7 separate regions of the Homo sapiens genome follow, and all the other regions are reported to be linked to region 2. Evidence: microRNA targets listed by miRTarBase, many of them from high-throughput screens and not tested one by one. Region 2 holds a microRNA gene; each other region holds the end of a gene's coding sequence. Distances are between the middles of the regions.

Region 1 (4,068 bases), not on the chromosome of region 2:
TCATTTACCATCTATAAAACACACACACACACACACAAAAGCTACAAACCTCTAAAATTTAGCCACTCAATTCAAAAAGGGAGCAGGGGGCAAAGAAGTTAATAGGAAAGAGTAAGGCTAACAAGACAGATGATAAAGTAATTTAATAAGAATTCATTGGTCGGGCACGGTGGCTCACGCCTGTAATCCCAGCACTTTGGGAGGCCAAGACGGGTGGATCACAAGGTCAGGACATCGAGACCATCCTGGCTAACACGGTGAAACCCCGTCTCTACTAAAAAAATACAAAAAAATTAGCCTGGCGTGGTGGCGGGCGCCTGTAGTCCCAGCTACTCAGGAGGCTGAGGCAGGAAAATGGCGTGAAGCCGGGAGGCGGAGCTTGCAGTGAGCCAAGATCGCGCCACTGCACTCCAGCCTGGGCGACAGAGTGAGACTCCGTCTCAAGGAAAAAAAAAATAGAATTCATTGAAGGAGGGGAATTAGGTAAGTGCATAAATATATATAGCGTAAGCCAGAATAAAAATGCTTCTTATGAGAAGTACCTCTAAAATATTTCTGGGTTCAGAGATGAGATTCCAACTAATTGAATGGAACAAACGTATATCATAGAAGAGCTAGCACATTAAAAAGACTGTGGAAAGGGTAAGATTTCAGAGCATTGCAGAAGGATAAAAAGGAGAATTCCAAGTGGAAGGATGACCAAGGATGAATCTAGGTCCTGTTACAGAAATTAAGAATAGTCAGCTTTGGTTTGTTTCTTCTAGCTGCATATAGCAATTTCATAGTTAACCTGTCAGATTACTCAAGAATTTATACTTTAACATTTCTATAGATAATAACATTACACTTTCTATCAAGTTCTATACTTATAATTCCAATTCTCACTTAATTTAATAACAAATAGTTCAGTATCCAGACATGAGGGCATTGTATTTCAGTACTTCTATTTGTGTTAATATATTAACATGTAACTGTAAATTAAGAGGTTCACCATGGTAGCTGATGAAGGATTAAAACTTAATGATTGTAGTGATCAAACGCACAAATACATTTGTATAACTAATGAGCAAATGGAAATTCTGAAATGAATTTAAAAAGCAATGGTACTGCTTTCTGAGACTTACAAACATTATTTACTGTAAAATGTAGAAGAATTGAGCCTTAAATGCATTACTGTGCTTAACTGTATAAAAGCAGAAGTTAATTCAAAGTTTCTAAGATGAAATTATCTCTCCAGGCCTACTTCTTATCAGAACCTCTTGAATTCAGATAATTAGTCAAATAGATAAGCATGTTCTTTCAGTATTTTCTCACTAAAGATAAGAATAATTCAAAGAGATGACTTCCACTGTAGGAAAATGATACAATGGGTTTATCATTTACGATGATCTTCTGAATTTGATCCCCATTAGTGAACAATGAATATGTCAGTGGCTTATATTGTTGAATAATTTTATGGACTCTTAGTCAGGTGAACTTTCCTTTCACAGATGACTATTCAATTTTATCTTTTTTAAAAAAATGTAACCGATGCCAGAATTATTACTCTTTATCACTGTATTTTTCCATAGAATGGAAATTTCTATTTTTCTTACCAGCCAACTTGAAATAAGACCTGAAAATATCTATTTTGGTACAAGAAATGATAGTATAAATGCTCACGAAACTGAAACAATCAGAAAATTCTAAATGTCTTCCCAAAGATGAGTTAAAAGACAGGAGAAGGCAGGAACAAATATGTTAAGAAGATTTAAGGAGCAATATATTTTTTTAAATGAGTTAACAATAAAGTTGCTTTAAAAAATTAAATACTTTTCAAATTTTGAAAGTAAAACAATAAGAAAACTGAGTTAAAACCTGCACTAAAAGTATGCAAAAGAATAAAAGAGAAGAAATGAGAAGGATTGGGACCCTTAACCAATGTCCACATATTAAAACTAAGTAAAATAATATTTCTACTTACATGTGCAGTGACACACAGGAAAGATATCAGCTAAATAAAAATAAACTGCAGCAGTACTCAGTTAACAGTACAATAAAAAATAATTATTTCATTATGATTGCATCATGTGTTCATTGGCAGGAAGGAAGCAAAGGAAAAAAAGAAGACGGGAGAAGGAGAGATGAAGGCAGGAAAAGAGAGGAAGTAAGGCAGACAGGAAGGCAAATAAGAAGAAAGTAAGCAAAGAAGGGAGAGAGAAGAAAGCACATTTCTAATTAAAACACAAGCATAGTAGGCCATAATAATGATTGTCAGTCAAGATAAGACCTAAATAATCCCTTCAATTTCTTGAATTCTTACTAGTGTGTTGGGGATTTTGCTGGTACTTTTTTAGGAACTAAGTCTCTTTTAAGCACTTTAGATGAAGAAATAAGACAATCTGAGTTATAGCATAGCAGAATAAGTCTTTTGTCCATGTGGTCTCCTCTCTGTAGGTTCAGAGACAAAATGCTAATAATTATAGCAGATTCTATTTTATCCACAGAAGGGTTCCAAATTCCATCATTGCAACTTTTGTAGATAGGACATAAACAAATAACACTATGACTGATTTTCTCTGTAACCCACACTATACCTCACTCAGTGAATGAACATGGGTTTGGTCAGGAGATCTGAATTGCCAGATAGCAAACATCCACACATAGCTCTTAATAAATTGAGGCTTCTTTATAAAAATTGCTGTTTGTATGCAGCACTTGGCCCTGCCTCATCTGTACCCTATACGTGTCTGATTCCCTGCCAGTATTTATACATGTCCCAACAGCAGCCTGTTTCATAGGCCTCAACAGGTAGAAGGGTTCAGGAAGTGATATACATGATACGTTGTATTATCAAGGATCAATTAAAAGAACCAAACTTTGAATTAATGCAGTTACAACACAGTAGCTCCCATATACTTTACAGATTTAAAAATTCCAATTATACAGTGTTGGAAAAATATATATTACAGCACATTTTAATTCTACTTCTTCATGTTTGAATATTTGGACTGTCTAATATTGAGGATTGCTTTTAAAGTTTATGTAAATCGTTTTCCACAGACGCTAAGGAAGATTATCATATGATTCCCATCAAATTATTTCTGTGTTCTACAACGACAAGCTATTTGTGCTGCATTCGTGATAAATAGTTCATTGCTTGAACTTGCAATAATTAAAGTTCCTTTGGAAATTTCACATCAGAAACAACACATTTCTCGAGTTTTTATTAACTATTGAATACTACAATATGATTTACATTTTTTTGAGTGTTATATTTAAAATGAGGTTTCCTATTAAATTAAACAAACATTAAAACATGAAAGCAGGTCAGAAAGGAGCCATTGGAACTATGTTGACAACAGCACCACATCTCCTACTGTTGTTTCGGAGTCCTGACTGTGGTTAGAACTGATACCAGTGTCCGAGTCTGTGTCATTTGTGTAATTGCTAAATACTCTTTGAGTAAAGGGAGGAATCTCCCCATTGCTACTGGGAACCTCAGATTCCTTCGCTCTGTTTTCCTTTAACTGGCACCCATCTTTGTTGCTAATGTGAAGTGAATTGAATTCCTTGGCCAGGAGTTCATATTCTTTTGCTTTCATCTGAAGCAATGAGTCACTGTATTTAATCTCTTTCTGGATGCCACTCAAATGAGAGTGAATTTTCAAACCAGCTTTCATGCTTTTCTCCAAATCACACTTAACACTCTCTAAATTAGAGCTTTCCAGTTCACTTGCAGCTTCCCCTTCCGCATCTTCATTTATATCAATGCAAACACTTTTTACCTCTTTTTCTATTTCAGCAGAGAGCTTATCAATGAGTATTCGGTAATATTTCAGTCGTTCTTCCAGCTGTTCAATTCCATCACTTTCGCTCAGGTCCTCCAGAGTCTGGTTTTCCTCATACTGCAAGTCTAGATTTTGCTCAACTTCACTGAAACTGGGCATTAAATATGCATCCTGAACATAGTTTTCTCCATCATTTTCTACTCGATCAAGATGGAACTTAGCTTCACACTTTTCAATTTCCAGATCCAGCTCTTTCATTCTCTTGACTTGCTGATGAATAGTATGGTCCTGGGAAATG
Region 2 (4,079 bases):
TCCTTTCTCTTCAGCTGAGGATGGAGTGGACATGTTTGGTAAAGAGATGAGGGTAAGGGTTGAGGTGTTGAACATTGGGCATGGAGGAATTCCAAGTATGCCCAGTTATTAATAAGGGGCTCTCAAATTCTGTTGCCTTTTTTGATTGCCCTGGAATTTGACATATATAGAACATGGTTCCATTCAGTGAGCCATTCTCTAGGCCTTGGAAATCTTCTAACAATAAAAATCCTTCTGGCCGGGTGCGGTGGCTCACGCCTGTAATCCTAGCACTTAGGGAGGCCAAGGTGGGCGGATCACCTGAGGTCAGGAGTTCAAGACCGGCCTGGCCAACTTGGTGAAACCCTGTCTCTACTAAAAATACAAAAAATTAGCCGGGTGTGGTGGCGGGCACCTGTAATCCCAGCTACTTGGGAGACTGAGGCAGAAGAATTGCTTGAACAGAGGCGGAGGTTGCAGTGAGCTGAGATTGTGCCACTGCACTCCAGCCTGGGTGACAGAGCGAGACTCTTTCTCAAAAAAAACAAAAAAAAAACAAAAAACAAAAACCACAAAAACCTTTTTTCTATAGCAATGTGTCTCATTTTAAGTTTAACCAGTAACTCAGACTCTAGCTATCGCTCTCTGAACATGTGTAGCCCCAGCGCCCAGCTACTGCTCAGCTCATGCCCTGGTCAATGCAGCCTGTCTCCATTCCTTTCAGTTTGAATGAATTCACAACCTATGGCAGCGAAGAAAGCAGTAAGTCAGCCCTGTGCATCCGCAGGCCCAGTGGGCCCTGAGGAGGGGTGTGGCGGGAGAGTGTGGGAGGGAGGAGGGCTCCCCAGCTCAACAGGGGGAGGCTGTGCTCCCTCCTCAGAGCCATGACCAATGGAAGCTTCCACAGAGCTTGAAAGTGGATAATGCTGGAAAAGGATTCTTCCCAGACCATCCCTGTGTCTCCTTCCCCCCCTCATCCCTTTACGACTTGGTTAGGTATGCCAGGAGAGGGTGCTGGGGGTCTTTGGTCTCAAGGAAGGGATGATGTTCCAGTTGAGACTCAAGAAAAGGATTCTGAGCCTCAGAGCTTTGAAGGAGCCACTTGGTCCCTGACCTTCCTAGAGGCAAATCCCGATCCCTGTCAACCCAGACACGGGCTCCCCCCTGCCCTCGTCTGGGAGCTCAGCCTTCCCGTCCTTCCACAGCCAAACCGGCCTCCGTCCGGGCCCTGCTGTTTGACATCTCCTTCCTCATGCTGTGCCATGTGGCCCAGACCTATGGTTCAGAGGTGAGAGAGGGGAGCGACCGGGACGGGGGCTCAAGGGAAGGAGGTAACCCGGAACTCTCCCCACCTCACTGCCTGCGCCCCCGCAGCCTCTCAGCCAGTTAGTTCTGTGGGCCTCAGAAACCAGGTGCCCACCCGGGCTGGAGTCCGTAGAGGCACCTTCAGCCCTATGTTCACATTGACCACTAGGTGGCAGCATTGCCCCCGTCTGGCTCCCTTAGACCAGTTCGTCCCCAGTCTTTGGGCTGGGCTGGAGCAGCAGCCTGGCGGGAAACAGTGCAGCCCCAGGTCCAGCGCTGGCAGGCGCCGCGCCCTCCCCACTCGGCTGGTGCCCCCCTTCCCCTTTCCCAGGTGATTCTGTCCGAGTCGCGCACAGGAGCTGAGGTGCCCTTCTTCGAGACCTGGATGCAGACCTGCATGCCTGAGGAGGGCAAGATCCTGAACCCTGACCACCCCTGCTTCCGCCCCGACTCCACCAAAGTGGAGTCCCTGGTGGCCCTGCTCAACAACTCCTCGGAGATGAAGCTAGTGTCAGTGGCCCGGGCGCCCACTCCAAGGGTGGCGGTGGGGGCAGGGTCAAGACCCGCTCCCTGAGCCCGTTCCTTGCTCCCCTGTGCTGACTTCTCTGCACACCCGCAGGCAGATGAAGTGGCATGAGGCCTGTCTCAGCATCTCAGCCGCCATCTTGGAAATCCTCAATGCCTGGGAGAATGGGGTCCTGGCCTTCGAGTCCATCCAGGTAGCCCCGCCTTCCCAGCAGCGTTTGCTCCCCTGAGACACAGAGCCAGCCAGTGATGACTTGTTATATTTCGTAAGGGCAAGAAGACCTTTAATCCAGGAGCTCATGTTTTGATATTGATATTTTGTGTAATCGTTGTCTTAGCTACTCCCTCTGGCCCAGGTAGCTCTGGGAAGATCAAACTTGTGGAGAGAGGTGTGGAATGTGGCCCGGGACTCCACCCGCTGCACTTAGCTGCCCGCAGAGGCTGAGAAGGTGATGTTGGCTCAAGAAAGGGAGATAGATGGTAGCCCATCACCTTTCCGTCTCCCCTAGAAAATCACTGATAACATCAAAGGGAAGGTATGCAGTCTGGCGGTGTGTGCTGTGGCTTGGCTTGTGGCCCACGTCCGGATGCTGGGGCTGGATGAGCGTGAGAAGTCGCTGCAGATGATCCGCCAGCTGGCAGGGCCACTGTTTAGTGAGAACACCCTGCAGTTCTACAATGAGAGGTCGGTAACCTGCCTTCCCTTCTCAGACCCTTCAAGTGTGTTGTGAGAAGTCAGCACATCCAATAACAAGCACCCCTCTCTTTTCTGACCTTCGCAAACACGCTACTTGATCACTCACTCACTTTCCTATTCATGCATTCACTCATCTGACTCAGCAAACATGTACTGTGTCTCTGTGGCAGAAGCGTTTATATGCCAGCACCTGCTGTGTTGTCAGAAATGCAGACCCTAAACAGGGTCTGCCCGCAGAGACTCAAGTTCTAGACAACTAGCTCCCAAAAGAACAAAGCTGTGTGACTGTCTAGGAGCTAGGAACCTGTCTGTAGATTTTACAGGCCATGCCCCACCCTCAGTTACCTCTTAGGACAGTTTCCTGCCCTGGCTCTTCAGGGGCTTGGAGGACTTCCCTGGTGACCAGTTACGTTGAGTTCATTCACCCAACCAATAAGTTGTTTGCTTTTTTTAATTGTAAAAAACACATAAGATTTGCCATCTTAGCCATGTTTAAGTGTACTGTTCAGTAGTGTTAAGTATATTCACACTGTTGTGTAACAGGTCTCCAGAACTTTCTTGCATCTCTGAAACTCCATACCCACTGAACAACAGCTTCCTATTTTCCCCTCCCTCCAGCTCCTGGTAACTACCATTTTACTTTGTGTGTCTAGGAATTTGACTACTTTATACTTTTTGTTGTTGTTGTTGTTGAGACAAGGTCTTACCCTTGCCCAGATCAGAGTGAGTCTCACTGCAACCTCAAATTCCTGGGCTCAAGTGATCCTCTCGCCTCAGCCTCCCGAGTAGCTGGGACTGCAGGCCCACAGCCGGCTAATTTTTCTAGTCTTTGTAGAGACAGGGTCTCACTATATTGCCAGGTCTTGAACTCCTGGCCTTGAGTGATCCTCTCACCGTGGTCTCCCAAAGTGCTGGGATTACAGGCGTGACCCACCGTGCCCTGCTGAATTTGACTACTTTTTAGATGCCTCATTTAACTGGAATCATACAGTCCTTGCCTTTTCGTGACTCACTGACTTCACTCAGCATGGTGTCCTCAAAGCTCATCCATGTAGTAGCACGTGACAGGAATTCCTTCCTTTTTAAGGCTGAATAATACTCTGTTGTGGGCCGGGCGTGGTGGCTCACGCCTGCAATCCTAGCACTTTGGGAGGCTGAGGTGAGTGGCTCACTTGAGGTCAGGAGTTTAAGGCCAGCCTGACCAACATGGTGAAACCTTGGCCTTACTAAAAATATAAAAATGAGCAGGGAGTGGTGGCAGGCGCCTGCAATCCCAGCTACTTGGGAGGCTGAGACAGGAGAATTGCTTGAACCCAGGAAGCGGAGGTTGCAGTGAGCCGAGATCACGCCACTGCACTCCAGCCTGGGTGAAAGAGTGAGACTCTGTCTCAAAAAACAAAACAAAAACAAAAGAAACCTCTATTGTGTGGCTATACCACATCTTGATCCCTCCTCTGTCAGTGGACACTTCAGTTGCTTCCACCTTTGGGCTATAGTGAATAGTGCTGCTGTGAACATGGGTGTTTACCAGCTAATACGTTTTGGGTGTTGCCATGTCTTTATGGCAACGTTG
Region 3 (4,079 bases), not on the chromosome of region 2:
AGCCTGGGAGGCGGAGGTTGCAGTGAGCCGAGATCGCACCACTGCACTCCAGCCTGGGTGACAAAGTGAGACTGAGACCTGTCTCAAAAAAAATAAAATAAAAATAATTATGAGCCCATTATATATAACACATAGAAGGCACTCAAAAATTAGTAACTATGATTATACCTGTAAATAGAAAAATAATAAGGCATCTTCTTCCTTAAACATGGAATGTTTGCTTTTTGGCGTGTGTGTGTTTCCCCCATTTGACTGTATTAACTTGGATTTTGTTTTAACAGCTCAGGTGCCTAAAAGGCCAGAGGGGCTTCTCAGGCCAACCTCCTTTTGATGGAATCCACATTGTCAACCATTTAATAGGAGATGATGAATCATTCCATTCCTCCGATGAAGATTTTATAGATAATTCCTTACAGGAAACTGGTGTTGGTTTTCCTTTGCACGGAAAATCTGGTTCGATGTCTTTGGACCCCGCAGTGGCAGATGGTAGTGAGAGCGAAACAGAAGACAGTGTGCTGGAGACCAGAGAGAGCAACCAAGTGGTTCAAAAGGAGCGGCCCCCGAGAAGAAGAGAGTCGTATTCAACCACTGTCTGACCATCACTGTGACCTAGACTATGGATTTATTTAAGGGATCAGTTATCATATGATTAGGGCTTTTTGGAAATAATTTGTTTCATATGTACATATATATATATATATATATATATATATATATATATATATATATATATATATATATTTTACAGTCTTATCTGCCTTTTTATCTTTGCCAAATCTTTACCACTGATTTACCATTGCCATAAAGTAGACTGGTATATGGTTAATGTGTAAAACAAGGTTCTAACAGTATTACTGAATATTAATGTTTCTTGTTTAGAAAATGCAACTATATCTATATGTGGGAACCATTCTGAAGTTCAAAACTATGGAAAATTGAATTTTCTTCAGACAAAACTGCTCTTGTGCAATATTTTATGCTCAGTGAGCAAATTGTGTATTTATGTTTATCAATTTGTTCTCAAGGTGGCTGTCTACAGACATTTGACCAAGACATACATCTGATTTACCTTGTGTTTTTTTTTTTATTGTTGTTTTTTTTTTTAAGACAGAGATTCAGTCTGTCACCCAGGCTGGAGTGCTGTGGTGTGATCTTAGCTCACTGCAACCTCCGCCTCCCAGGTTCAAGCAATTTTCCTGCCTCAGCCTCCCGAGTACCTGGGACTATATGTGCGCACCACCACGCCTGGCTAATTTTTTGTATTTTTAGTAGAGATGGGGTTTCACCATGTTGGCTGGGCTGGTCTCGAACTCCTAACCTCAAGTGATCCACCCGCCTCAGCCTCCCAAAGTGCTGGGATTACAGGTGTGAGCCACTGCACCCAGCCTACCTTGTCTGTTTGTGTCTGGGAGGTTTTTTTTTTCTATTTTTATTTTTTCATGAAAATTATTGGTGGGCCACTGAAAGTCCCCACACACAAAGCCTTTATTCTATATAATTTTATAAACACAAATTCATGATTATCTGTTTTGAGAGTTTTAAGTTTTGTTTTAATGTTTAACTTTTATGTGCATATGATGCTTCCATGTGTTGGTTACTAGAGTAGTAGGTTAACTACAGACATACTGTTTTGTTTGTACATATTTATAAATCTGTACCACCTAACATTGAACATCATTTTATATGAAGAACATACATGTTGCAAAATGACTGCTTTCAGCATCTAACAGGACTTCTGTAAATAATAGGTTAAAAGTTAAAAATAAAACACTAATGTTTTAAGAGCTTTAGTATTTTGCTTAGCATTCAATACTAGCAGATTCATAACTGATGCCTGTTCAAAAACACTGTTGGTGGAATCTTTTATTTCATGTGTATGTAACTACTAAATTTTTCATGACTGAAGAGGTTATAGCACATATTAGTTAGTGCTAATATTCTACTGAATATAATTTAAGCAATGGGCTAAGGTCCAAGAAACATAGCAATTATATCTACAAATAATCTATTAACATGATCTTCAGAATCTCTAGTTTTTGTTCTATAGATAAAGCCATAAGAATCCTTTCCTACCAGTTTTTCCTATATCATTTAGATATTATTTCCTAGAAAACAGGATGCCTGTCACTGATAAGTTAGAGAAAACACCCAAATTATACTTGCACTATGGAAAGACGACATGAATATGTTGACTGGGTACTTTCTACTCTCATTTTTGTTAGCCTATGAAAAAAAAAACATTTTGTTAACCTATGGAAAAAGCCTTGGAAGAGAAAAGTAGAATTCAGTATGTATGGAGGCACAGTTTTGCACAGTATGTTGCATGCGGCAAAAAAAAAAATATGAAATAGAGTAGAAGAGATAAAAGTAGTTTTCTGTCAAAAACTAGGAGTTAAGCCTTCAGGTACGTTGTGGACTAGGCTTTCCAGCAAGGTTTTTGTAGCTATTTGCTTGCCTGAGAAATGAAATTGAAAACATACCCCTGCGTGTCTGTCCTTAACACCAGGCTAAATTCTGGTGGTTAAATAACTTATCTGTGGTTACAAGCTAGTAAGTAGCAGAGCCAAGATTTTTTTTAATATAGAGACAGGTGTCTCACTGTGTTGTCCAGGCTGGTCTTGAACTCCTGGCCTCAAGTGGTCCTCCTGCCTCAGCCTCCCAAAGTGTGGGGATTACAGGTGCGAGCTACTGCTCCCAGCAAGAGCCAAGATTTTAACCTAGATCTCCCTAACACCAAAGCTTTTGAAAGGGTTCAGCTGAAGAATTTCTCAATTCTCTGTTTTGTTTTGTTTTTATTTTTGTTTTTTGAGATGAAGTCTCACTGCACTCAGGCTGGAGTGCAGTGGTACGATCTTGGCTCACTGCAACCTCCACCTCCCGGGTTCAAGCGATTCTCCTGCCTCAGCTCCCAAGTAGCTGGGACTACAGGTGCACGCCACCACAACTGGCTAATTTTTGTATTTTTAGTAGAGATGGGGTTTCGCTATGTTGGCCAGGCTGATCTCAAACTTCTGACCTCAGGTGATCCACCCACTTTGACCTCCCAAAGTGCTGGGATTACTAGACGTAAGCCACCACACCTGGCAATTCCCTGCTTTTTTGACAACATAATTTAAATGAATTTGATTTAAATGTTTCCTGAATATATATACAGATAGATAGATGAGTATCAACACTTACAAGCTCTACACAGTCTGTGAGTGTAGATACTACTTACTCGTAGGATTGTCTTGTGCTTTGGGGATTTTTGTTCGGAGTTCTATACTATCAGCCCAGAAAGCTATCAATGTCCAAGTGAAGTGAGATGATGCATGGCCACATTATTGCTTTGACCCTCACATCAAGAAATCTGAATGATCTGGACCAGGGGTCAGCAAAGTGCAGCCTACAAGCTATTGCAGTCAGCTGCCAGTTTTTACTTTTTTAAATAGTTGGGAAAAAAATTCCAAAGACTGATATTTTGTGTCACATGAAAATTATATGAAATTCAAATTGCAGTGTCCATAAGTAAAGTTTTATTGGGGCACACCCATGCTCACCCTTTTAAATATTGTGTATGGCCGCTTTGTGCTACAGTAGCAGAGTTGAGTCATTGCAAGGGAGACCATATGGCCCAGGTAGCCTAAAATATTTATCTGATCCTTTACAGAAAAAGTTTGCTAACCCTTGATAACAGATACTCTAAAATGCAGGTTTTTCTTCTTCAATTTAGCTCAGTGGTAGGTCAAATTGTTTGCTTTTGCTATTAAGCTTATGATTTGGAAACGTAAAATTTCATGGTGGATATTATAATCAGAACTATTCAAAAGGGAAAACATGCCAGCCATTTTATATGATGAAGTCTCTTATTCCATAGAAAACTGTAGAAAGATATCTGTATCTTTGGAGAAGGAGAAAGAAAGGAAAGAACTCCAGAATCCCATCACTGTTCTTTAAAGCATGCATCACAGACCTTTAAGAGTATGCTTTATTGAGTAAAGGTTATAGTTTGACTTTAAGATAAGAAATTTTCTAGAATCATGTTTGAATTCTAAACGTTGATATTCTTAAGTACCATTTCTGATTAGGAATTAGGTGTT
Region 4 (4,000 bases), 8.5 Mb from region 2:
CTGTCCCTGCAGGAAATACAGCTCTCTCTAACCCTCACTGACAGATTTTATGGCCAGATTAGCAAACAGCGGAAAACTTGGGTGTTAAAAGGGGCCCAGAGAACCCTCCTTTTCAGAGACATCCCTCCCCCGCCCCCCTGTCCTGCTGTGAATTTAACAGCACGGATATTTTACCCACGTCTTTGGCTGCTTTAGCTGAGCGCCTGGAATCTTCCAAAGAGAAGGATAGGGAACACCAAGCCAAGTTGGTTCTTATTTTTCTTGTTTGCAATTCCAGCTTCGAGCCAAAGCTCTGTTTTTCAAACTTAAGCTAAATTCTCTTTCTTGGCCTCTTTCCTGCTAGATAAATAACAACCCAACCCAGCCCCAGAGCCAAACATGGTGCTTCATCTAGTTATATCATTCAGAAAATGTTATTCAAGGAAGAAGAGAGAAAGAGAAAGAAAGAAAAACCCTTGAGCGTTATTTGATCCCAATCAAACTTTGCACGCTCTTATGCCTTTAAATTATAGCCTGACCCAATGCTAAATTGCTTGCTGCTTGGATGAGTCCAGTTAAAATCCTACTTGGTGGTGGGGAAGGGGGAGGGCGTAGAGTTCAGGTTGCTTTTTTATTGTTATTTATTGTTGCATAAAGACTATAATTACTAACCTTGGACTGCCAGGATGCAACATAAAAATGAAAATCAGCCCTCTCTTTAAGGCAGGGCCTGGAACGATTCTCACTCCCCCAACATCACTACCACCAAATATATGCTCCTAATTAAGCAATGCGGGCACATCGCTTACAATTAGAATTATGCAGCTCTTCAGCAAGCAGCCATCGCTTCTCTTTCAACGAATTAGCTCCATATTTCAGCCGCCCTGTCTTCTCGCTCTTATCGGCTCCAGCGACTCGGCGGTGACATTTCATCTTTGACAGACCTTCTCTATTTTCACTCCAATGTGATAAAACTTTTATGGAACCACAACTAAGAAATGAAGTTTTCCCAAGGATGATGGAAACAGAGCCGCACATTAGCCTGGGGACCGTTTTATTTACGCTTGGATCCAACAGCTTCTCCCACCCTCCTCTCCCCTTTCTCTGGCAGGGGAAATCGAACGTGCTTCCCCTCCCTCCGCCTCGAGTTTTATTTAGTGATTTAATTTTACTTAGTTTTAAAGTTTGACCTGAGAAGTCTAGGCCTCAGTTTTGTTTTTTTTTTTTTTTTAGATTAATCATTTTTCTTTGTTTTCATTTTAGACCCAATGGTGGTTGGGCTTCGGGTCACGTGACACCTTCTTTGTGGCTCCGGAAGAGGATTGTGAAGTTTAGGTTTCGTGGAAGAAACCGTAATCGGCCAGATTTTCTTGGTGGTGGTGGGAAGGGGTGGGGGGTGGGGGGTGCATGGACGCTGTGGCCAAAGGAGCTAACAGACGAAAGGTCAATGAATGAAAAACCTAGAGGCATACAGGCCAAACAGAAAAACCTACAGAGAGCATCCAAGAGTCCCCCGTTACCTCCCAACTTGCTACTTAAACCACAGCTGAAGAAGTTGGCAAAATGTTACAGGCTCTTATGAGTGAGAAAATGGTATTTAAACTTAAGACATATCAAGGGGGAGACAGGAACCTGGGCAGTGGACAAAAAGGCCAGGGAAGGGTCTTCAGTGTCCTTGTCCTTGTCCTTCTTCCCTTGGGGGAAATTTGGCAGTCAGCAGCCTTGCTCTGCTATCTAAATTGGACCACCAGGACAAGATAAAATTGATAACAGAAAGTTTATTCAAGAATTGTTTGACAGACAACCCTTTTAGGTAAGGAAAAAAGTAACTACTGAAGAACAAAGAAAGTTCCAAGAGGGAATTAACTCTAGTTCTACAAATTCAGGACTATACAGTGACGATTAGGAGCTGAGTTCATGCCTTTTAGAACTAATTACAATTGTTCGTAAGTACGAGTTTAACATAAATCTACAGCTCTTTTCTAGAGTACAATAGTAACTAAAATAGCTGGTTTTACATGACAGGAAACACAATGTCCTTTGTAACAGGTAAATACTAAAAAAGTACAATTTTTTCCTTTTTTTCCCTCATATAAATACATAATGTAGGGGGATAAATAATACAAAAAAGAAAATATTTTAACAGGCTATAACCAATAAATATATATGAAAATGTTCACTAGAACACACGCTTTTTTGAGCAATGCTGGACTTCTGCAGGCCCAGACATCTCTCACAGTTGTTTTTACATCCATTAAAATGTAAATTCTAAGTGCAACAAAAGTGTCCTGTCAGGAGGCTGAGCAAGGCACACAGGCCCTGCCCAGCCCCTGCCTGGGACAGTTTGTTCAAATATACCCTGTTTTCACGTTAAGTCAAGAGAGCAACAGAAGAAAAGTATAGAACCTCGTGTCACCAACTGCTTTCTGTGGAGAGGGGGATGGAGCTGGAGCTGAGATGGAGGCAGCAGAATGGGCAAACCTTCAGTCCTAACAACCTGCCTGCCCTAGCCTCCACACTTTTCCTTAAAAAAAAATGTATATAATTTATAATATAGGCAGCTCTTTCAGGATCTCTCACCATCCCTGAGCCCTCTAAAAACTGTAATTGATGGGGGTGGGATGTATAGATATGAATGTTCTAGAGCAGAAAAACCGGGGGCTAGAAGTGTACCTCAATAAACCTCAAATGGGAACAAATTTGAGGTTTTGGGAAAGTTGGAAGGGAACGTGTTTTGTGCCTTTTGGGTTTGAAATGTGTTTTCTTATTTTTTAAAGGATAATTGAGGAAAAAAAAAAATCAAGATTTGGGGGGAATTACCTACAAAGATGTAAGGTAAGTCCGTTGGTTGGTGATGGCCTAGCCATCTTGTCTGGTTTTTAAAATGTGCTTTTCTGCCTCGTCCTGTCTCGTCTTCCTCTACCCCACTCCCGGGCGTGGAATTCCAACTTGGTAGTGCTGGAGCCCTGGGGTTGATGGGGTCATCTCCAATATGATGTGGATTCCTTTCCGATGGGTTGGCAGGCAGATGGAACAAGGGGTGGAAGACTTAAAAGCAACCTCTCAGGCCAGGGGGAAGGGAAGGAGCTCCAGGCCGGTTCTGACCAGGAAGCCTGGGTACCACCTTCTCTGGCTCCTCTTTTCAGACCTCCAGGTTGCCCCCCAGAGCTCCACAGTCTCTCTCTTCCTCCCCATCCCCTAATCCTCGTTCGCCCTTTCCCATCACAGGTGTGTTAATTTGGGCGCTTCTTGGATTCTACCCTGAGGAGGAGGCGCGTGGTGAGAGGAGAGGTCTGTGTAGGTGGGGTGGGGTTCGCAGGGTCCGTGGTGCTGGCTGGGCGCCATAGGGGGCGCCCCGTTGTAGTCCAGGTTCCCGGAAGGGTGATGGGAAAGGTGGTTGAGGCCATAGAGGGAGGGGCCGGCAGGGGGCGGCAGCGGATCCGCGTAGCCGCCCCCGCCCACGTACACCGGACTGCCCTGCATGGTGGGCGTCCCGTAGGCGCCCCCGTTGGCTTGGAGGACGTGCGGCTCATACTCGGGCGCCGGGGTCGGAGGGTACTTCTGCGGGGCGCCGCAGCCTTTGAGAGGGGGCTGGTAGTTGGAGGGCAGCGCGTAGGCATTCTGGTGGGCTTTACCGAAGGCGGGTGGGGACGGGCTCTCGTAGCTGGGGGTCATGGAGTGTAAGGCGTTCATGAAGCCGGCCGTGGACTGCATGGGCTGCGGGGGGCTGCCGGCTGGAGATGGGCCCCCCGACGACGAGGCCAATCCCTTGGCCTTCTGGTCCTTCTTGTACTTCATGCGCCGGTTCTGGAACCAGATCTTGATCTGCCGCTCGCTGAGGTTCAGCAGGTTGGCCATCTCTACACGGCGAGGCCGGCACAGGTAGCGGTTAAAATGGAACTCCTTCTCCAGCTCCACCAGCTGCGCGCTCGTGTACGCCGTCCGCGCCCGCTTGGACGCCGCCGACCCCGGGGGGCTCTTGTCCCCTCCCCCGCCGCCGCCGCCACCGCCCCCGCTGCCA
Region 5 (4,071 bases), 28 Mb from region 2:
GGTTGGGGTGTGGAAATAAGGGATTGGGGCGCAGAGATAAGGGATTGGGGCGCAGAGACAAGAGGTTGGGGCGTGGAAATAAGGGACTGGGGCGCAGAGATAAGAGGTTGGGGTGTGGAAATAAGGGATTGGGGGGTTCTTGCCCCCTAGGAAAGCGGGACTTGCCGCTAAGGGTGAAGGAGAAGGGGTTGAGGGGTACTTGCCCCTGCCCCAGAAAAGCAGAGAAGGGGTAGAGACAAGAGAAGGGGTTGGGGTACTTGACCCTTCCCCAGAAAAGCGGGACTTGCCACTAAGGGTGAAGGACCAAGGCAGGCGTCCCTGTGTGGTCTGACACCCTTGAAATGTGAGTGTATAATCAGAGAGGTGTCCCTGCAATGATTAAACACCAAGGGAAGGCTGCCTTCCCAGTCCGTGACCGGCGCCGGAGTTTTGGGTCCACGGATAAAACGTGTCTCCTTTGTCTCTACCAGAAAATGAAAGGAATTGAAATTAAGAGAAGGGAGAGATTGAAGTGTGGCGCCAAGATTGAAAGGAGAAAGAGGTTGAGGGATAGTGAGGGAGGTTGGAGAAGAGAGTAAAAAGAGGCCACTTACCGGATTTGAGATTGGTGAGATGTTTCTTGGGCTGATCAGTCTGAGGACCTGAGGTCGTAGGTGGATCTTTCTCATGGAGCAAAGAGCAGGAGGACGGAGGATTGATCTCCCAAGGGAGGTCCCCCGATCCGAGTCACGGCACCAAATTTCATGTGCGTCCGTGTGAAGAGACCACCAAACAGGCTTTGTGTGAGCAACATGGTTGTTTATTTCACCTGGGTGCAGGTGGGCTGAGTCCGAAAAGAGAGTCAGCAAAGGGAGATAGGGGTGGGGCCGTTTTATAGGATTTGGGAAGGTAATGGAAAATTACAGTCAAAGGGGGTTGTTCTCTGGTGGGCAGGGGCGGGGGTCACAAGGTGCTCAGTGGGGGAGCTTCTGAGCCAGGAGAAGGAAATTCCCAGGGTTAATCATTCAGTTAAGTTGGGGCAGGAACAAATCACAATGGTGGAATGTCATCAGTTAAGGCGGGGCAGGGCCTTTTCACTTCTTTTGTGATTCTTCAGTTACTTCAGGCCATCTGGGCGTATAGGTGCAAGTCACAGGAGATGCGATGGCTTGGCTTGGGCTCAGAGGCCTGACAGTGAGACTTCCCCCTCCCACCATCTTCCACCTCCCACCATCTTCCACCTCCTTCTTTAGGCCTGATTTTTTTTTTTTTTTTTTTTTTTTGGTGAGACAGAGTCTTGCTTTGTCGCCAGGCTGGAATGCAGTGGTGCAGTGGCGTGATTTCGGCTCACTGCAACCTCCGACTCCCTGGTTCAAGCAATTCTCCTGCCTCAGCCTCCCGAGTAGCTGGGATTACAGGCACGCACCACCAAACTCAGCTAATTTTTGTATTAGTAGAGACGGGGTTTCACCATGTTGGCCAGGATGGTCTTGATCTCCTGACCTTGTCATCCGCCTGCCTCAGCCTCCCAAATTGCTGGGATTACAGGCATGAGCCGCTGTGCCCGGCCTGCCTGATGTTATTATACTACTATGGGTGAGGCTCAGGAAGGATGATGCTAATGTGGACAGAGTTATCTCCCTGAAAACAGATTAACCTATAGTCAGGAAACTGCAAGTGCATTACTAGTTGATGGGAGAGGAGGGACAACACCCAAGCTGGAGGTCCTGGCTTCCAGCAGTAAAATTTATTAACTCCCTTGTATCATGAAGATGAGAAGGCCCCACTTAGGGGGTGCAGGAACTGCAAGGAAGAAAGCAGGAAAATCATAGAGGAATTAGCATCAGATTCCATATTCTATATAGCAGAGATTTATAGGATGATGGGATTTGAGGTTTTAAATCACGAGTTCTCAAACTGGCCTCCAGACCAGCAGCATTGGCAATTTGTTTAAACTTACTGAATCAGAAATATTGAAGGGCGGGTCCCAGTAATCTTTGTTTTAACAAGCCCTCCAGGGGATTCTGATGCCTGTTCAAGTTTAAGAACCACTGTTCAAAACAGTAATCACAAAATTAAGTTTCTGCAAGGTTAGGAGGGAATAATCACAGAAGGAATACTGGGTCCTCCCATACTTTTCTTACCAAACAAGCTGCCTCATAGAGCTTTTTAAAACTCATCAAAACTGTTAAACCCATTGGACTTCCAGTGAAAATTTGTTCCACGGAGGTAAATCTAGAAAACTTTTAGATTAAAAAGCTTTAGAATGGCCAGGCGCGGTGGCTCACGCCTGTAATCCCAGCACTTTGGGAGGCTGAGGCAGGCACATCACCTGAGGTCAGGAGTTCAAGATCAGCCTGACCAACATGGTGGAACCCTGTCTCTACCAAAAATATAAAAATTAGCCAGGCATGTTGGCAGGCGCCTGTAATCCCAGCTAGTTGGGAGGCTGAGGCAGGAGAATCGCTTGAACCCAGGAGGTAGAGGTTGCAGTGAGCAGAGATTGCCCCAGTGCACTCCACCCTGGGTGACAGAGCGAGACTCCATCTCAAAAAAAAAAAAAAGGCTTTACAGTAAAGATTTCTTCTTGGCTTCCTCTTAAATGATCGAAAGGATGATGGAGATACTTCCTGTTTGCTTGTTCACATTGTATCCACAACAAATAGTAGGTGTCAGATTAAAATGTATTGAGTGGATGCATGAATTAATGAAGGATAAATATCAGTATACACATCCCTTATCCTCTACAGCAGGGATCAGCAAAATATGGCCCATTGCTTGTTTTTGTAAATAAAATTTGTTAGAATGCAATCACACCCCTTCATTTACTCATCATTTATGGTTACTGTTGGTCTACCACGGCAAAGTTGCAAAGTTCAAACAGAGGCATTGTGGCCTGTAAATCACTAAAAGTATTCACTAACTGGCTCTTTATGGAAAAATGTTGGTGACCCCTGCTCCAGGATAGTGTTTCTCAAACTATAATGTGCATACAGATTTTCCAGAGAGATTGTTAAAATGGAGATTCTGGTTCATGGGTGATGCCAATACCACTGGTCCAAGGACTGCGTGGGGTAGCCTGGAAGAAGAGCACCTAGGATAGTGTTGTGTAACAAGGTCAGGGCCCTTGTGGTTTGTTTCTCTTGGTCTCTACATGATCATTTATGATTCAGCAGCTCTCAAATCCTGGGCCAGACACAGTTGAAGAGTAAATCATTTTATTAAGAAACCTGGGCCCACATTCCTTCAGCTCAGCCTCACCTTAGGCACACCTCTCCAAGTTCCCTAGAGGAATTCTACAGAATTGTGAGTGCTCATGGTTTCTTACCGTTCTAAGTGTCTGTGGTGACCCTTCACCCACCTGTCCCTCTAGGCAGCCTCCAAGCCCAGCTTTTTTATTTTCTCGGTGGCTCTGCAGGATGCTAAATCTGGAGAAGCAAGGCTACTCCAGCCAGAACCCACTTGGATGGGTTTTCCTTAGTCTTCAGGTTGAAAGTCCACACGTAGGTGGGTCCCCGCTGACTAGTCTTGTACACAGGACAGGAATAGACACTGCGGCAGTCCTGCTTATCTGCAGGAATGGCCTTGATGAACATCACAGGCATAGGGGGTGTCAGATCCTTCAGCTTTGCCTCTGTAATGATCCCAGCCTGAGGATAAAACATGAGAAGAGGCACCTTAGATCAGACCCAGAGCCCAGCCAACCAGCCTTGCTCTTGTCAGCAGATCCAAGGGAGGAAAGACTGGACTGACATGGCTGCCTTTATGCCTGCCCCCTTCCAGGTTTTCTCAGCAGCCTTTGATGGAATGCATCTGATATGTAGAAACACGTTTCTATTTTTCTCTGCCTAAATCAGGTGAAGCAGAGTTCCAAAAGCTATTATCATATACAAATGAATCCCTTTGGAGCTTGATTCTCTCCTAGTTTGTTTTTTCATTAATTCATTTCATGAGCATATCGAATGTGTATATTTGCCAGATGTCGGGCTAGGTGCTGGGGATTTAAAAATGACTAAGACACAGTTTCTGCCAGTAAATGCTTTAGCTTTTAAAGCTTTTGTTATGTCCTGTTTCTGTTTCTTTTCTATTTCA
Region 6 (4,079 bases), not on the chromosome of region 2:
TCAAGCACATGAAAGAGCTCACACTGGAGAAAGACCTTATGAATGTAATAAATGTGGTAAAACCTTCAATTATCCCAGTTGTTTTCGAAGACATAAAAAAACTCATAGTGGAGAAAAGCCATATGAATGTACAAGGTGTGGTAAAGCCTTTGGGTGGTGCAGTTCCCTCCGAAGACATGAAATGACTCACACTGGAGAAAAACCCTTTGATTGTAAACAGTGTGGTAAAGTCTTTACTTTTTCAAATTACCTTAGACTTCATGAAAGAACTCATTTGGCCGGGCGTAGCCAGTGCTTTGGCAGGAGGCAGGGGGATCACCTGAGCCCAGGAGTTTGAGACCAGCCTGGGCAACATAAGAAGGCCCCATATCGGCTGGGTACGGTGGCTCACGCTTGTAATCCCAGCACTTTGGGAGGCTGAGGCGGGTGGATCACCTGAGGTCAGGAGTTCAAGACTAGCCTGGCCAACATGGTGAAACCCCGTCTCTACTAAAAATACAAAAAAATTAACTGGGCATGGTGGTGGGCACCTGTAATCTCAGCTACTCGGGAGGCCGAGGCAGGAGAATCGCTTGAACCTGGGAGGTGGAGGTTGCAGTGAGCCGAGATCACGCCATTGCACTCCAGCCTGGGCGACAAAAGTGAGACTCCATCACACACACACACAAAAAAGCCCCATATCACGTGGTGGCTCATGCCTGTAAAACCAGCACTTTGGGAAGCCGAGGTGGGTGGATCACGAGGTCCAGAGATGGAGACTATCTTGGCCAACATGGTGAAACCCCGTCTCTACTAAAAATACAAAAATTAGCCAGGCGTGGTGGTGTGTGCCTGTAGTCCCAGCTACTCGGGAGGCTGAGGCAGGAGAATTGCTTGAACCAGGGACTTGGAGGTTGCAGTGAGCCGAGATCGCGCCGCTGCACTCCAGCCTGGTGACAGAGCGAGACTTCGTCTCAAAACAAACAAAAAAAAGAAGGCCCCATATCTCCAAAGAAAAAAAAAATTAACTGGGTGAGGTGGTGCATCCCTGTAGTTCTAGCTGCTCAGAAAGCTGAGGTGGGAGGAACCCTTGAGCCTGGGAGGTTGAGGCTGCAGTGAGCTGAGATCGTGCCACTACACTCCAGCCTGGATGACGGTGACACTCTGTCTCAGAAAAAAAGGGAAAGAAATAATTCTCATTTATACAGGAGAGAAATCCTATGAATGTAAGGAATATGGGAATACATTCAGTTTCCAAAGATATGAAAAGACTAACTGGAAAAAAATCCAAAGACCTCAGATATTCCAGTTCTATTCAGAGCCATAAAAGGACTCATACTGGAGAAAAATTGTAGAAATGTACAGAATATGGGGAAACTCTCATTGCTCTCATCTCCATTCAAAGACACGTGTCAGTGCACACTGGAGATGGATGGTATGAATCGAAGAATACACACTGGATGGAAACGTTAGTAGTTTGGAAAATACAGGAAACTTCCATTTTAACAATAATTAAAATTCACATGGGCTGTGCACAGTGGCTCTCCCCTGTAATCCCAGCATTTTGGGAGGCTGGGGTGGGTAGATTGCTTGAGGCCAGGTATTCAAGACCAGCCTGGCAACCTGGAGAAATCCCATGTATACAAAAAATAGAAAAGTTAGCCAGGGATGATGGTGTTCGCCTGTAGTCCCAGCTACTCAGGAAGCTGAGGTGGGAGGATTGCTTGAGTTTGGGAGGTCGAGGTTGCAGTGAGTGGAGATTGCGCCACTGGACTCCAGCCTGGGCAACAGTGAGACCCTGTCTAAAAAAATTAATCATGTGAGAACATCCACTCGAAAGAAATCCTATAAACGTAAGTAATTTTGAAAGCCTGATGCAAATTAATTATTATATAATGCTCAAAAACTTAATCATGAATGAGTTATTACACAAAGTTATAAATATATAGCATTTATCAGTGGCTCATTCTTTTTTCTTTCTTTTTTTTTTTTTTTTTTGAGATGGAGTTTTGCCCTGTCGCCCAGGCTGGAGTGCAGTGGCACAATCTCGGCTCACTGCAACCTCCGCCTCCTGGGTGTGAGCAATTTTCCTGCCTCAGCCTCCTGAGTAACTGGGATTATAAGCACATGCCACCACGCCTGGCTAATTTTTTTGTATTTTTAGTAGAGACGGGGCTTCACCATGTGGTTCAGGCTGGTCTCAGACTCCTGACCTTGTGATCCGCCCTCCTTGGCCTCCCAAAGTGCTGAGATTACAGGTGTGAGCCACCGCGCCTGGCCTTTTTTTTTTTTCCCGAGACACAGTCTCACTCTGTTGCCCAGGCTAGAGTGCAGTGGCGCGATCTTGACTCACTGTAACCTCTGACTTCTGGGTTCAAGCAATTCTCCTGCTTCAGTCTCCGAAGCATCTGGGATTACAGGCGCACGCCACCATGCCCAGCTAAATTTTTGGTATTTTTGTAGAAACAGGGTTTTTCCACATTGGCCAGGCTGGTCTTGAACTCCTGACCTCAAGGAATCCATCCTCTTCAGCCTCGCAAAGTGCTGAGATTATAGGCATGAGACACCTTGCCCGGCCCCTGTGACTCATTCTTAAAAAGGATCTTTGGATTATGGGTTTCCACTTTTGCAAGGAAATGTGAGAATGATACTCTTTAAGCAGTGGTACCTGAGGTTTAATAGGAAGTGTTTTTATCCTAAGTTAGTTAATAAAATTTTTTTCTATCCATTTTGGTTTTCATTTTTTTCTATCCATTTTAAAGTGTTGGATCTGTGGGTGAAGTGAAATTTATTTCTAATATGTAAGCAGGTTTAATTTTTATGTAGTGTTTAATTGTTCTGTGATGAATGGGCCATTACAAAATGAGTCTATTTTTGTTTGTTTTCTTTTGTTTTTGAGACTGAGTCTTGCTCTGTCGCCAGGCTGAAGTGTAGTGGCGCGATCTTGGCTCACTGCAACCTCCACCTCCCGGGTTCAAGTAATCCCCCTGCCTTAGCCTCCTACAGGCGCGTGCCGACATGCCTGGCTAATTTTTTGTATTTTAGTAGAGACGGGGTTTCATTGTACTGGCCAGGATGGTCTTGATTTCCTGACCTTGTGATCCACCCCACCTTGGCCTCCCAAAGTGCTGAGATTACAGGAGTGAGCCACTGCGACCGGCCCATGAGTCTTTATTAATAGAGATTTCTTACTGGTGTTATGTGGCAGATTCTGCATATTCCTCACCCATCATATGTATTCCACTTTCCTTTATTATGGGGAAAACTACTCTTTTTGGCATGATACAATGTTGACTCCATTTTCTTTGCTAATAAGGACTTGGTATCAATTTATCAGTATGTAAAGTTTACCATAGAGTATTGTCTCATGTGAATCATTCCCATTTTTTGCTCTTTACTCTTTGTCGTTATTTCTGAGTATTATTTGGATGGTTCATTTTGACTTAAGGATAGCCCTGTGATATGACAATATTTTTATCTAATCTGATGGAGAAAGCATTTAGTCTCCTGATCAAGTATGATGTTAGCTGCAGGTTTTTAATAAATGCCTTAATTCAGTTTGAAGAAGTTCCCTTCTGTTCATTATTTATTGAGTGTTTCATCAAGTTGTATTGAACTTTTTTGCATCTATTGGGATGATCCCCTTTTTTTTTTTTTGGAAACAAAGTTTCACACTTCTTGCCCAGGCTGGAGTGCAGTGGCACAATCTTGGCTCACTGCAACCTCCGCCTCCCAGGTTCAAGTGATTCTCCTGCCTCAGCCTCCCAAGTAGCTGGGATTACAGGTGCCCTCCACCACGACTGGCTAATTTTTTGTATTTTTAGTACAGGTCAGGTTTCACCATGTTGGCCAGGCTGGTCTCGAACTCCTGACCTCAGGTGATCTGCCCGCCTCAGCCTCCCAAAGATCCTGTGGTGTTTAGTCAGTTTTGCATTGCTGTAAAGCAATGCCTGACACTGGGTAATTTGTAAAGTAGAGATTTCATTGGCTCACGATTCTGCAGGTTATAGAGGAAGCATGGTATCACATCTGCTGGGTTTCTGGTGAGGCCTCAGAGCTCTTACTCTTGGCAGAAGGTGAAGTGGGAGTAGGTATGTCAC
Region 7 (4,072 bases), not on the chromosome of region 2:
GCCTGTTATGAACGATGCTGCTATGAGCTGACACGTTTTAAAATTCTGCCTGGAATATACCTAGGAGTGGAATCATGGGTCATGTGACAAGTCTTTAACTTTTTGAAGAACTGCAAAACTGCTTTCTAATGTGGCAGCACCATTTTACACCCCCATTCCTGCCAGTAATATATGAGGGTACAGAGAGCTCTTTTGGTGGCACCTAAGAACTGTAAATAACAGTGTTCACAGTAGTGAATCTTTTGTGTTTGCTTCAAATGCTCAGTATGTGGAAAAGCACACATACACACACACACGGAGAGAGAGAGAGAAAGTGAGAGAGAGAGAGGGAGGGACAGAGAGAGAGAGAGAGAAAGAGAGACTCGGTTTCTGCATTTATGAACTGCTGGAATGACATATTCAGCTTTTCATTTGCCCCAGTACAAGGTGGCCTTTGTTAGAGGGGAAATGTACCAAGATCTCATTTCAAATTGGGAAGACATCCTGGCAAAAGGTCAAGAAGGGAGATTTTATTGTTACATAAGATCTATTTTTTGTGTGATATTTTACCTTTAACTCCCCACATGCCATGCACATTTGTGACTTCATTTATGTTAATAGTGGTAACCAACAGGCCCAGCTAATCTATAACCTGTTTCCTAAAGTGCAGAAAATAGCTACCTTCACCTTCCATTCTTGCTAACTAGTAACTGGAAGATATTGAATCACCATACTGGTGTTGACCAATGAGAAAATAACAGAGCCACTTTGAAGGGTAGAGACAGGCACGTGACCCGACATCTTCCAGTTGTCTATCGGTAACAAGGCACGGCAAAGTTAGCTATTGGCGGAACTCAAACAGTTGTCACAGCAAGCTGCTGGTTGGAATCATCAGATCAGAAACTAGTAATATGAGTCACCCTTAACTTCCAGAACACCTTTCTCCAAGGCCAGATGCAAAACTCTCAGTGACTCTGCCGCTATGACAAGAACAAAGAAATATTGATGAGATCTTGAAGACATCTGCCACGGCCAACATAACCTTATCTTTGCAGGTATATATGACATTTAATGTTATAACATTAATAAGAAAGGAATAGATGTCTTCCTATTTAAGTGAAAGAGTTTGAGAGTGTTTTTTTTTTTATTTTGGCACACCTATGAAGAAAGCAAAATTATGTGATCTAAAAAACAGAGCATATGTGGAAAAGGAAGGCCCCCAGCCTCTTCCTGAATAGCTGGCCAGGAGTTGTAAGCATAGGTCCATGTTGTAGGGGCTGCTCTGGGATGGCCACAAATGGATATGGTTCCATGAGAGGTGGTTCTCAGACTGTGATCTGAGGAACAACCTCTGGGGGTATTATTGAGCGAAAGGGCTCACTCTTCGATGCGCTAGAAGCCAATACTCTGATAAAGGGTTTCGAAGAAAAGCTTTTATTGCAAAGTCGACTCACAGGACACAGGAGTCCAGCTCAAACCTGTCTTCCTGTGCTGGCTTTAAGGAAGTATTTTTATCAGAAAAGACTTAGGGGGTGGATTCTGGGATTAGCAGGTGATTGGTAAAAGAAAGAGGAAATCTAGAAAGTCCTCAGGCATGCACAGTTATCTCTTCATGCCTCATCATGGGTCTCATGTGCAAATTTGGGAGGGAGTTAGTAAGAACCTGTGGTGGAAATTCAGGCTGTGACGTCAGCAAGCTCTTTCTGCGTTAACTCCGGTAAGCCATATTGGTTCCAACAGATAATCTCTTTTTCACACATTTCTGGCTGAAATTTAGCATTTTGTTAGGTTATGAATGTAGACAACAAAACACAGTAGTTTTCATAGCACATGAGTTTGTCAATAATGCAATCACAGATCTTTCCATATTACATTATGAAATTGTAGTGGATATCTCAAAATATTGTTGATGTTGATCATTACATTGAAATTATAGCATTGTTACTTCCACTGTTGGATCTTTTCATTTAATTTGATAATGAAAAAAACACATCTCATGGGTTACTATATCATCTTTAATATTTGGATAAGTGTATCGTAATATGATAAGTTTTCTTTGAAATAGCATGCATTTTGCTTGATGCATTTAAAAACAATGTTGTGAGGAAGAATTCCGTAGGTTTCACTAGGCTGTCAGTGGGGTCCCTGACACTTCGTGTGCTCCAAAACCCCACTGGCCTCACTAGGGCCTTAGCCATCAGAATTATATAGTCAGAATGCCTCTCCTTAAGCATTCTGTGGCAGCCAGAGCCAAATTCCACCAACATATCCTTGATGGTAACATTAAATATTTTTTAAATATCAAGTAAATAACGTTTTCATCTTTGTGGCCTTCCTGAGTTTGTTAGAGGAAAGCTGACAAGTTTCCCACCTTTTTGATCAAAGGATTCCCATGGCTGCTTTTCCATATTTCACCAGTTTCCTAGTTAGCTCAGGCCCTCATCCAAATGCCCCGTATTGTGATAATTAGATGATTTAACAATATTGTTTGTCTCTAGCCTTATGCAGGTGCTGACACATGAGTGTGCAGGGAGAATGAATGGCTTCCTGGTTATAAGAAAAGAAGAAAACACAGAGAAGTAGGTTCATTCATTCCACACACATTCATTTTCAACTCATTTTCAGGTAACATCAAAAGTTAATATTCCTGTTGAACATTAATATATAATTTCCTTATCTCACATTTTAACCCTATAGAATTTTAAGCAAGAAGGTTGCAACTCCTATTTTTACTGGAGTTGGTATTTTCCTAAATATAGCAACTGCTATGATGATTAAAATAGTAATCAATAGACCCTTCCACAAACCCACATCTTATAAAAGACTCCTTGCAGAGATGTAAGAAAAAGGATAATTATAAAGGTTATCATCCTATTGGTGGATTTGGCTGTAGGTTCTGTGATGCCGAAGAGAACCAGAAAGACAAATTCATAAGAGTTTGCTAAACAAGAACCTTAACCCCAAACAGAGATTACTCATGGTCAAAATAGCACAAAATTCAAAATCACTTGCAAATTCACTTGTTTTATTTTTATCTGGCATATAAATTGCATATTTTTATGTGAAATGTGGTTGTATACATTAGAAATAAGATTTACACATTTCAAAGCACACTACTGCAAAAATAAATTATTTTTAACCTCCAAACTCTCTTTTGAGCTTTGCCTGCTCAGATCTCAATCTCACCAGTAGCCCTTTATGCTAAGGATTTCTCAAGACCCTCTTCTTCAAGTGAGTTGACTCTTCCTTTTTCCTCCCCATGAGGCTGCTGACAATTTTACATTATGTTCTTACTTAGGATCACTTTTACTATCATCTTCTGTTTCATCTGATCTTTCCTTGTGTTTGCCTTTTCTTTGCTTATCATGCTCCCCCCACCTATAACCAATTAGGTATATTATTCCTCCCACCGCCTATAACCAACTAGCAGATGTTCTTTCTGGATACTTTCTTGAGATGCTGATTAGCTTCAAGACCTGGAACTGTCACAGAAAGCTTTCTCTTGTGTATTTAACAAAAGAATGGGGTCCATTCTATGATTACAAACGTGGACATACACACACTTCATCATGGACCCAGTTCATCTTCAGTAAATGTCATATGATGAACAGTCACTACCATACTAACCACACAGAGACATTAAGGTAATGCATAGATTTTCCACACCTCCCTAACTGCCTATCCCACAGGGCTAAGGTTTAACCTTTAGGGTTCACACAAAAAACATATAACAAAATTAACAGAAATATTTCACCAATAGTGGGTATGAACAAATTAGCAACACACAATAATTTTTATGAGTATGAAGTATAAGTAGTTTCAAAGTCATTCATAGTTAGTTAGAATCTTGCTGTAAAAATTCACAGAGTGCTTATCCACGTCAATGAAGTAAAATTATGTAGGCTGATGTTTCTGTCAGTCACATCGATGCTTAATACCTGTTAGGAACCAAAGGAAAAGAATTGGGCATCCGGTGTTGAAATTTCCTGCATGCAAATAAATCAGGTGCAAGTATCCAGTCCAAATAACCCCCTAATACTTCTACATTGTATTGTCTAGTTAAAAGACTGCCTTCAAAGTTTCAGATGAGAAG

The links. Region 2 holds the annotated microRNA hsa-miR-6884-5p (AGAGGCUGAGAAGGUGAUGUUG, at 2,246-2,267, shown strand). A microRNA usually pairs through its seed, bases 2 to 8, with sites in the 3' UTR of a target mRNA and lowers its output. Matches are read on the target gene's strand: a 7mer-m8 pairs with bases 2 to 8, a 7mer-A1 pairs with bases 2 to 7 and ends in A, and an 8mer does both.
Region 1: miRTarBase lists RASSF9 as a target of hsa-miR-6884-5p. Seed matches in the 3' UTR shown: 7mer-A1 at 2,659-2,665 and 7mer-m8 at 338-344.
Region 3: the mRNA of EVI5 is a reported target of hsa-miR-6884-5p. Seed matches in the 3' UTR shown: 7mer-m8 at 1,203-1,209, 7mer-m8 at 1,339-1,345 and 7mer-m8 at 2,652-2,658.
Region 4: the mRNA of HOXB3 is a reported target of hsa-miR-6884-5p. Seed matches in the 3' UTR shown: 7mer-m8 at 2,275-2,281.
Region 5: the mRNA of DNAH9 is a reported target of hsa-miR-6884-5p. The part of its 3' UTR that is shown has no 7-base or 8-base seed match.
Region 6: the mRNA of ZNF101 is a reported target of hsa-miR-6884-5p. Seed matches in the 3' UTR shown: 7mer-m8 at 2,076-2,082 and 7mer-m8 at 2,509-2,515.
Region 7: miRTarBase lists MGAM as a target of hsa-miR-6884-5p. Seed matches in the 3' UTR shown: 8mer at 3,240-3,247.

The regions. Positions count from the first base shown.
Region 1 is chr12:85,801,373-85,805,440 of GRCh38, forward strand. It overlaps RASSF9 (Ras association domain family member 9), which reads right to left. Exons shown (of 2, transcript NM_005447.4): 2 at 1-4,068. The coding sequence ends at 3,330. Among named protein-coding and RNA genes, the nearest start is that of RASSF9, 33 kb to the right of the region's middle.
Region 2 is chr17:40,024,571-40,028,649 of GRCh38, reverse strand. It overlaps MIR6884 (microRNA 6884), which reads left to right and starts at 2,241; the gene lies at 2,241-2,318. It overlaps MED24 (mediator complex subunit 24), which reads left to right. Exons shown (of 26, transcript NM_014815.4): 15 at 704-741; 16 at 1,185-1,267; 17 at 1,616-1,794; 18 at 1,904-2,003; 19 at 2,319-2,494. SNORD124 (small nucleolar RNA, C/D box 124) reads left to right here and starts at 1,005; the gene lies at 1,005-1,108. RefSeq lists an enhancer at 1,093-2,003.
Region 3 is chr1:92,510,173-92,514,251 of GRCh38, reverse strand. It overlaps EVI5 (ecotropic viral integration site 5), which reads left to right. Exons shown (of 20, transcript NM_001350197.2): 20 at 282-4,079. The coding sequence ends at 596. Among named protein-coding and RNA genes, the nearest start is that of GFI1, 25 kb to the right of the region's middle.
Region 4 is chr17:48,547,133-48,551,132 of GRCh38, forward strand. It overlaps HOXB3 (homeobox B3), which reads right to left. Exons shown (of 5, transcript NM_001384749.1): 5 at 1,738-4,000. The coding sequence ends at 3,202. It overlaps HOXB-AS1 (HOXB cluster antisense RNA 1), which reads left to right. Exons shown (of 7, transcript NR_102279.1): 4 at 1,243-1,331; 5 at 2,757-2,814; 6 at 3,208-3,270; 7 at 3,892-4,000. Among named protein-coding and RNA genes, the nearest start is that of HOXB2, 4.0 kb to the left of the region's middle.
Region 5 is chr17:11,968,858-11,972,928 of GRCh38, reverse strand. DNAH9 (dynein axonemal heavy chain 9) reads right to left here. Exons shown (of 69, transcript NM_001372.4): 69 at 3,181-3,629. The coding sequence ends at 3,402. Among named protein-coding and RNA genes, the nearest start is that of ZNF18, 27 kb to the left of the region's middle.
Region 6 is chr19:19,679,964-19,684,042 of GRCh38, forward strand. ZNF101 (zinc finger protein 101) reads left to right here. Exons shown (of 4, transcript NM_033204.4): 4 at 1-3,543. The coding sequence ends at 337. Among named protein-coding and RNA genes, the nearest start is that of ZNF101, 13 kb to the left of the region's middle.
Region 7 is chr7:142,105,659-142,109,730 of GRCh38, reverse strand. It overlaps MGAM (maltase-glucoamylase), which reads right to left. Exons shown (of 71, transcript NM_001365693.1): 71 at 2,984-3,917. The coding sequence ends at 3,840. Among named protein-coding and RNA genes, the nearest start is that of MGAM2, 4.0 kb to the left of the region's middle.